Regions from separate parts of the Homo sapiens genome. Here region 2 is linked to region 1. The links come from fine-mapping of genetic effects on gene expression. A gene starts in region 1. The other region holds a variant in brackets. All regions are shown on one strand. Distances are from middle to middle. Region 1 holds the start of KANSL3 (KAT8 regulatory NSL complex subunit 3). Region 2 holds the start of MIR3127 (microRNA 3127).

Region 1 (4,383 bases):
TATAAAAAGGCTATTGTTGCCACTGTCAAGCAACCCAGAGCACTGGACTAATGTGATAAAAGAGTCGTATCCTGTGGGTAATCTTTTAAAATCAACTTTTCAGTCTTTTTCTTCACCAGTTAAATAACCCTCTACGATTTTCCCCTTTCCACACGTCCTACTATCTAAGTGGAATAGGTTGTCTGCTTTTCATTTGCACGTCTTGCTTTCCTAACTCTTGTTAGCTGTCTCACAGAGATAGCCACATTCAAGCCTGCTATCCTTATGCTGCTTAAGAGATGCCTGAATTTAACATCCAAATGCCTCATACAATCTCCCCCAGTCAATCCTGAGAAAATCCTCTCTAAATTCCCATCTGATCACTGCCCAGTGAGGTTACCAGCAGCCCTTAGAAGCCCCAACTCACATGGTACTTTCGTGCTGCCGCCGGGGAGTGACAAAGAGCATGCGGGTGGGGCGGGCACTACTGGCATCTGGGTGGGCACTCCAAGGCTTGGCATAGCTATGATCCAGAAAAACCAGGTCCAGCTCCCGTTCATGCACTGAAAGCTGGAAGAGCAGCGAGGTGCCCATGCGTCGAGCTGAAGTCTGGAAGTCCCTCTCCCCACCCCGGTGGGCCATGTCAGTGGAGGGGCAGAAAGTCAGAGCATGGGTATCTGCATGCTAGTCACCTGCAGTGAAAAGTTTCAGTTTAGGTCAATTCCAATATCCTAAATTTCTCCCAATCTACACCATCTAACATGCTTACTTTTGTAACCTACTATCATTCCTATTGAGTATCCATTTCACGGCAGACCTCTGGTGGGGACGGTTCGTGGAATCCCACACCAACACCAAAAAAAAAGAAAAAAAAAACTATGGTGCCACGAGTTGTCCCATACTCAACCTCTAGCGAACTGAAATTACCTAACGGGAGAGCTCACCGACCCCAAGGTTCAGAAAGACCTCGCGTGGACAGACAGTAAACTTGCTTGGCCAGCACCACTTCCTAGGTGGGCAGGAAGGGTTTTGACAAACAGGAAATCACAAATATGAATTCGTTGAAAGCTAAGGATCTCTGTTGCTTCACACCATCCTCTAACGACAATGCGAAGGGAGCCGGGGCCGCAGCTAGAGCGTGGGCACCCCTAAAGGGCAGGGCAACGCCGGCCTCAAAAAAGCGAATCCCAGCTAGGGCTCCACTTCTTCAAGCCTCTCGTATTGTGCGAAACAAAAGTTCTGTTAAGTACTTCGTAATATTCCAGAGTTGTTTACATAAAAATGAAAACTGCCCCCCCAACAAAGCCTGTGACAAAATGATCCCCGTGGAAGCCCTTTCACCCTCACCCCCAGTGAGGCGTCCCTAGCAAACCGCCCAGGACCCCGGCTGCCCCGCAGGCGTTCCCGCCACTGAGCCTCCACACGGCCCATCTAGGAGACAGGGCTATGACTCGCATTTTACAGACGAAGTCGCCAGCTCGGGGAACTGAAGCGATTTGGCCAAGGTCATCCAGAGTTCGCGACGAGGAGGAGCCGCCTGGCCCCCGCCTCCCGCCTCCCGCTCCCTGGGGCAGGGCTCGGCGTCCGCGTCACGGAGGCCCAGACGCGGCCCCTGCCAGCCCGCCCCCGGCCCGACCCGCCCCGCCCGACCAGCACCGGCAGCCGGCCCTAGCCCGGGCCCCCGCATGCCCCGGGAGCCCTGAAGCCCTCGCCGAGACCCCCGGCCGTCCCAACCACGGCCGCGATCCCCACGGCCCGCCACTCCCCTCGAAGCCAACGCTGCTCTCACCCGCGGTCTTACGGCCGCGCGCTCGGCCACGGCCGGATCCCTAAGCGCGTGCGCGTTAACGCCTCCACGCCCCGGCGCTGCGGGCACCGAGTAAAACGCGGAAGCGGGTTACGGCCTGGGAAGGGAGAGGCGGTGAGCGGCAAAGCCCGGAACGGATGAAGCTCCGGCGCCTCTGTCCGGAAGAGGAGAGCCAAGAACACGCGAGCATGTCCGAAGCAGAAAGTCAACAACTAGGCTGGAGTTTCCCCCTCGCGCATATTCAGTAGGGAAAGCGAGGGCGGAGGACTAGGCTGGCTTCTACGGCCCCAGTTCTCGCCACCCCCACCGTGTTGGTCCTTTGTGCCCTCTGGGCGGTCGAGCACCCAACGGTCCACCTCCACCAGGGCAGCCACCTGAATTTACTCATTAAGAATTTACCTAATGTGGCTCACGCCTGTAATCCCAGCGCTTTGGGAGGCCTAGGCGGGAGGACCTCTTGAGCTCAGGAGTTTGAGATGAGCCTGGCCAATATGATGAGACCCCCGTATCTACAAAAAATTTTAGAAATTAGGTGTGTGTGATAGTGGTGTATGCCTGTAGTCCCAGCTACCCGGGAGGCTGAGGTGGGAGGATCACTTGAGTCTGGGAGGTCCAGGCTGCAATGAGCCATGGTTGCACCACTGCACTCCAGCCTGGACGACGGAGTGAGACTACGTCTCAAAAAAAAAAAAAAAGAATTTTGTTACTGACCCTAGATTGTTTTGTGTGGTTAACTTTCCTATGTGTTTTGTGTAGAGAGAGTAGATCCTCAAAATCAGGGACATTAACCTTTGTATCCTCCAGAGAACATACACCCAGAACATAGGTAATTGTTCAAATGTTGACTGATCAATAATTGGTTATTTGGTTGACTGACTGACAACATGACATCAAGAGACATGAGACAAGACAGCAAGAGACATGGTTCAAGATGATAAATCTCACCCGGGATCTGTGGCTCATGCCTATAATCCCAGTACTTTGGGAGGCCAAGGTGGGAAGATTGCTTGAGCCCAAGAGTTCAAGACTAGCCTGCACAAAACAGTGAGACTTCGTTTCTATTTAAAAAAAGAAATGGCCGGGTGCGGTGGCTCACGCCTGTAATCCCAGCACTTTGGGAGGCTGAGGAGGGTGGATCACGAGTTCAGGAGTACAAAACCAGCCTGGCCAACATAGCGAAATCCTGTCTCTACTAAAAATACAAAAATTAGCCAGGTGTGGTGGCGCATGCCTGTAATCCCGGCTACTCGGGAGGCTGAGGTGGGAGAATCTCTCAAACTCAGGAGGCAGAGGTTGCGGTGAGCCAAAATCGCGCCATTGCACTCCAGCCTGGGCGACACAGCAAGACTCTGTCTCAAAAAAAAAAAAAAGATAGGTACAGACATGCAAACACTCGAAACATTCAGAAAGCCACTCAAAGCTGTGTTCCACAAAGATGAGAGGGTAAACTGAGAAGACGGAAGGCATAGGATCGGGGAAGCAGGGTCTAACACAAGAAGCAGACGAGGAATTCTGAAGGTGATGGCAAAGAGTATCCCAGGACAATAGCTATGCTGCAGGACTGGGGACCACTAGTCTCAGCTGGGGGAGAAGAGAAGACCAGGAGGGAGAGCCCCGGGGAAAACAATAAAACTGGGAAAATGCCTCATAGATTTGAAAAAATCAAGGAATGCTATTTAAAAGTGCTGTTTAGAAATATGGAGCTTAAGGCCATAGAAATTATCACAAATAGAGCAGCCCCTGCCCCACCTCTCCCTACCCTTAACTTTGTCTCCTGGGCGCTTGTTTGGGGCCAGGGTTCTGCTATTTCTCTACTTATATTCCCATTCCCACTAAAAACAGATTTGTATCTTTTCTCTGCCCCTTCCTTTCCTCAGCACACCACGTTTATCATTTTGTTTCATTCTTTGCCAATTTAAGAGGTGATAAATGGTATCTTATCCCATTTATTTGCTTATTAATGAGTTTTTTGTTTTGTTTTGTTTTTGTTTTTTTGAGACAGAGTCTCTCTCTGTCGCCCAGGCTGGAGTGCAGTAGCGTGATCTCGGCTCACTGCAACCTCCACCTCCCTGGTTCAAGCGATTCTCCTGCCTCAGCCTCCCGAGTAGCTGAGACCACAGGCGTGTGCCACCATGCTCGGATAATTTTTTGTATTTTTAGTAGAGACGGGGTTTCACTGTGTTAGCCCGGATGGTCTCGATCTCCTGACCTCGTGATCCGCCCGCCTTGGCCTCCCAAAGTGCTGGGATTACAGGCGTGAGCCACCGTGCCCAGTGAGTTTGATTTTTTTTTTTTACATCTTTTTTGGCTTTTGAAACCAATTTGGCAAAGTCATAAATTGTATTTCATTGTATTTCTTTGATTATTAACAAGACTGAGGGTTTTTTAAAAAAAATTTTTTTTTGTCATTTTGGGCAATTATCTGATAGGAGCTTTGCCTTTGTTTTCCTTTGGGATAGTCATCCTTTTCTTATTAAGAGCTTGCTCTATAAACATTTATTAAATAAACTGTTGGACATTAAGTATATTGAAAATGTTTTCCCTGCTTTGATATTTGTCTTCTAGCTTTAAGGCATAATTTCTACATAGGAATTTTT
Region 2 (4,333 bases), 160 kb after region 1:
ACCTGTAGTGGGAAATACATATATCATAGCCCCTGGCATGTGTGTGAAAAACTTTCACAATGCAGTACCCCCCCCCCCATCACATGGGGTGTATTGTGAGAATTTTTACTTTAGTCATGAGACCTCACATTCTCTCTGCTCTCCCTAAGAGGCCCTTAGAAGTTCTTAACAGCCCATCTTGGGCTGGGGGATTTTCTGTGGCCTTAAAGACCTGGAAAACATCCTCCACCGAGGGTATTTAGGATGAGTTCTTTAGTCCCTAGAGCGAGGCCCTTGGATTGTGAAGGGGAAGCCATGCAGAAGACCCTGACTTGACCTTCCCAGATTTCCGGGGGCCTTTCTTCCTAGGCTGCTCCAAACCTGTGTTCCTGCGAGTGGGGTATGGCACACAGGACTCATTCCACCTAGACTGTGGACCTAGCCCTTCTTGGCTGGACCCTCTTGCCACTCATGGGGCTGGGGCCATAAGAACAGGGTGTGGCCTTCAAAAAGGGGTCTGGGAAGACCCACCACCCCACAGGGTTTCTGTGGAGGGTCCTGCCCCATGCCAGCCTCCTTCCCTCACTTTGGGTTGAGGGGGTGGCCCCTCTCTAATTGTAGTCTCTGCCCCACCTAATCACAGTGCTCGGCCTCTCTGTGCCCTTGTCAGTTTGGGTCTTTCCCCTCCCCAAGAGTTCCAGAAGCCCCTGATAAGTGATACCAGACAGGGTCTTTTTTTTTTTTTTTTTTTTTTTTTTTTTTTGAGACAGAGTCTTGCTCTGTTGCCCAGGCTGGAGTGCAGTGGCGTGATCTCGGCTCACTGCAACCTCTGCCTCCCGGGTTCAAGCAATTCTCCTGCCTCAGCCTTCCGAGTAGCTGGGACTACAGGTGTGTACTACCACACCTAGCTGATTTTTGTATTTTTAGTAGAGATGGGGTTTTACCGTGTTGGCCAGGCTGGTCTCAAACTCCTGGCCTCAAGCAATCTGCCCGCTTCAGCCCGTCCAAGGTGCTGGGATTACAGATGTGAGCCATTGCTCCCAGCATTGCCATTTTTATCCGATTTAAACAAGTAGTCCTGGCCTGGCGTGGTGGCTCATTCCTGTATTCCCAGCACTTTGGGAGGCTGAGATGGGAGGACTGCTTGAGCCCAGGAGTTTGAGACCAGCTTGAGCAACATAGCGAGATCCATCTCTACAAAAAATAAAAGAGTTAGCCAGGCATGGTGGAGCACACCTGTGGTCTCAGCTACTCGGGAGGCTGAGGTGGGAGGATCTCTTGAGCCCAGAAGTTGGCGGCTGCAGTGAGCTATGATTGCGCCACTGCACTCCAGCCTGGGTAACAGAGCTAGACCCTGTCCTTCCTCCACAAAAACAGAGAAAAACAAAAAAGTGGTCCTTAACGACATGCTTTTAAAAATTACTTTTAGTTTTCCTTTTCATAAAAGCAATGTCTGTTTGCAGTAGAAACGTCAGGAAAGATGGAAAAGATAAAAACCACCATGACCCCATCCTGGTGACTTATGACCCTACGTCTAGAGTTAATGTTTTGGTTGAGGGAGTCTCATGACTGGCCTCTGGGCTCTTGTCTGACTTGCTGCATTGTCCCACAGGGAAGTCCCACCTGGCCATCGTGCAGAAGGTAAACAACGAGGGTGAGGGTGACCCCTTCTACGAGGTCCTGGGCCTGGTCACCCTGGAGGACGTGATCGAGGAGATCATCAAGTCGGAGATCCTGGACGAGTCCGACATGTACAGTGAGTCCAGCCTTCCACAGGGCCCAGGACCCCTTTCCTGCTTGGATCGAAACTTGGTGTCCCTAGCTGGAAGGGCCATAGTGCAGGGACACAGGAGGCCTAGCATCCAGAGGCCCAGTGGCTGGGTGCCCTGCACTGGCCGGGGTGAGCAGGGAGCAGGTTGCTGAGAGCAGTGCCCGGAGGCTGCCTTCACCCTCGGCCT[T/C]TGTGCCTCGGCGTCAGCCCAGGACCCTGCCAGCCAGAGCCTGCTGCTCCTGCGTGGGACTAGGGGCTGGAGAGCAGGAGCTGCGGGGCGGGTTCCAGTCTCTTCCTAAGTCCTCAGGGGTCTGTGTTCTCAATTCCACGCTCTTCTTCCGGCAGCTGACAACCGAAGCCGGAAGCGGGTGTCTGAGAAGAACAAGCGTGACTTCTCTGCCTTCAAGGATGCGGACAATGAGCTCAAAGTGAAAATCTCCCCGCAGCTCCTCCTGGCCGCTCATCGCTTCCTAGCCACAGGTAGCATGAGGAGGACCTTCCGGTCTTGGTGGAAATACGGTCACGGGGGAGAAGTCCTGGGTTTCCGGCTGCTTTCCCCCCATAGGACGAGGGCTGCAGCAGGTGAGGGGTGCAGAGACAACACAGCCACCCCTGGAAGGGGCCGGGTATCTGCTCCACCCCTGGGGATCTCCCTGCGATTCATTTGCCATTAATGGGCGGCTACTGCAAACTTCTAGGAAGCATCCAAGTTACTATATTTAATAGTTTGGGAAATAATGACTAGGCACTATGGCTTATACCTGTAATCCCAGCACTTTGGGAGGCCGAGGCAGGAGGATTGCATGAGCCCAGGAGTTCGAGACCAGCCTGAGCAACATGGCGAGACCCCATCTCTACAAAAAATACAAAAGCCAGGCATGGTGGTGCCCTCCTGTAGTCCCAGCTACTTGGGAGGCTATGAGGTGGGACAGTTGCATGTCTGTGGTCCCAGCTACTCAGGAGGCTGATGTGGGAGGACCGCTTGAGCCCAGGAGTTTGAAGCTGCAGTAAGTTGTGAATGCACCACTGCACTCAGCCTGGGCCACAGAACAAGATTCTGTCTCAAAAATAACAAAAAAGAAAATAACCACTGAGGTGGGCCCCTAGGCTGGCCAGGCCCATCAGGGCTTGTGGAATGGGAAGGAGAAGGGACGCTTCCCCTTCTGCAGGCCTGCTGGGTGTGGCTGGACCCCTCGTGTGCTCACCCACTCTGAGGAGCTTGCATCCAGCTCTGCTCTTACTCTCCAGCTCTCCCCTTTGCAGACGTGTGCTGGTTCCCGCAGGAATTCACTTCTAGTTCAGAGACATTTCTCTCTTTTCAGCCCTGATTCAAAGCTCCACTGGGGACTTGGGTGACAGGTTCTGCTCTGCCCGCTCTGTCCCCCTCTTCCCCTGGCCCAATTCATCTTCCTTCCCACCCCTTACTTGCTAAAGGGGTGGCAATTCCCTCTCCATTATTTTTCCTGTGGGATATTGATGCTGATGCAATAATTATAGTCTATATATTTTAGTATATATGGACAGCACATATATACTAAGTGCTGTCCATGTGCTATCCCATTCACCCTCACAACCACCCTGTGAAGCTTTTACCCCCATATTACAGATGAGGAAACTGAGATGCAGGTTAAGTAATTTGCCCAAGGTCATGTGCTGTTCTTGCAGGAGCCACTGTTCAAGCCCAGGCAGGCAGGCAGCCTTGTATCCAACCAGTCAGAAGCCAAGCGTGCTCCCTCCCCAGGGAGGTGCAGAACGAGGGCCGGCCGAGCAGGGCGGGAGTCGTCTGAGCACAGCGTGGCTGCTGTGGTTGGGGTGGAGGCACAGCAGTGATCGAGCTTTAGGGCCACCTGGCCAGCCCCGTGTGAGGTCTCTTCTCTCTCCTCCTACAGAGGTCTCTCAGTTTAGCCCCTCCCTGATATCAGAGAAGATCCTGCTGCGGCTACTCAAGTACCCAGATGTCATTCAGGAACTCAAGTTTGACGAGCACAATAAGTACTACGCCCGCCATTACCTGTACACCCGAAATAAGCCGGCCGACTACTTCATCCTCATCCTGCAGGTGAGCCCGCTCAGCCCTGGGCCTGCCACCTGCTCCCCCTGGCACTGCAGCAACCCCCAGGCCCTCTCTCCCACCTGCTGCGGAGGTGCATGGCTTCCCTGCCTGGGGAGCCTGCTGCCTGCCCTTGAGCCCCGCCTGCCCCACGTGGCCATCCTCTCCCTGAGAGGCCACTCTTGATCTCACAGGTCAGGCCCCTGAGCTCTCCAGGGCTCCAGTACCGGCCCTTCCTCCTGCCCCACTGTCCCTTGTTCCTCACTCCCCATCCTGCCTCATCCTTTGTTTCCTCCCTCACTTGGTCTCTAACTCCAGCCCTGTGTTTTTTCAGGGGAAGGTGGAGGTGGAGGCAGGGAAGGAGAACATGAAGTTTGAGACGGGCGCCTTCTCCTACTATGGGACTATGGCCCTGACCTCGGTCCCCTCCGGTGAGTTGTTGGGCATGGTCTTTGCTGCCCTTTGGCCCCCCTGCAGCTGGGGAGCCATGGACCGACACCAGAACTGAGCATGGGCCCGAGAGCTCATAGCCAGCT

The links. PIP is the estimated chance that this variant, and not a neighbour inherited with it, causes the effect. A credible set is the group of variants that fine-mapping cannot tell apart.
Region 2: its variant is the best candidate, but not a certain one, in a credible set for the expression of KANSL3 in whole blood (INTERVAL, PIP 0.66).

Annotation. Positions count from the first base shown.
Region 1 is chr2:96,636,515-96,640,897 of GRCh38, forward strand. KANSL3 (KAT8 regulatory NSL complex subunit 3) reads right to left here and starts at 1,798. Exons shown (of 21, transcript NM_001115016.3): 1 at 1,769-1,798; 2 at 407-671. The coding sequence starts at 621. RefSeq lists a silencer at 1,518-1,727.
Region 2 is chr2:96,795,421-96,799,753 of GRCh38, forward strand. It overlaps CNNM4 (cyclin and CBS domain divalent metal cation transport mediator 4), which reads left to right. Exons shown (of 7, transcript NM_020184.4): 2 at 1,592-1,735; 3 at 2,093-2,227; 4 at 3,637-3,806; 5 at 4,132-4,228. It overlaps MIR3127 (microRNA 3127), which reads left to right and starts at 2,858; the gene lies at 2,858-2,933. The variant T/C (reference allele first, on the strand shown) is at 1,938.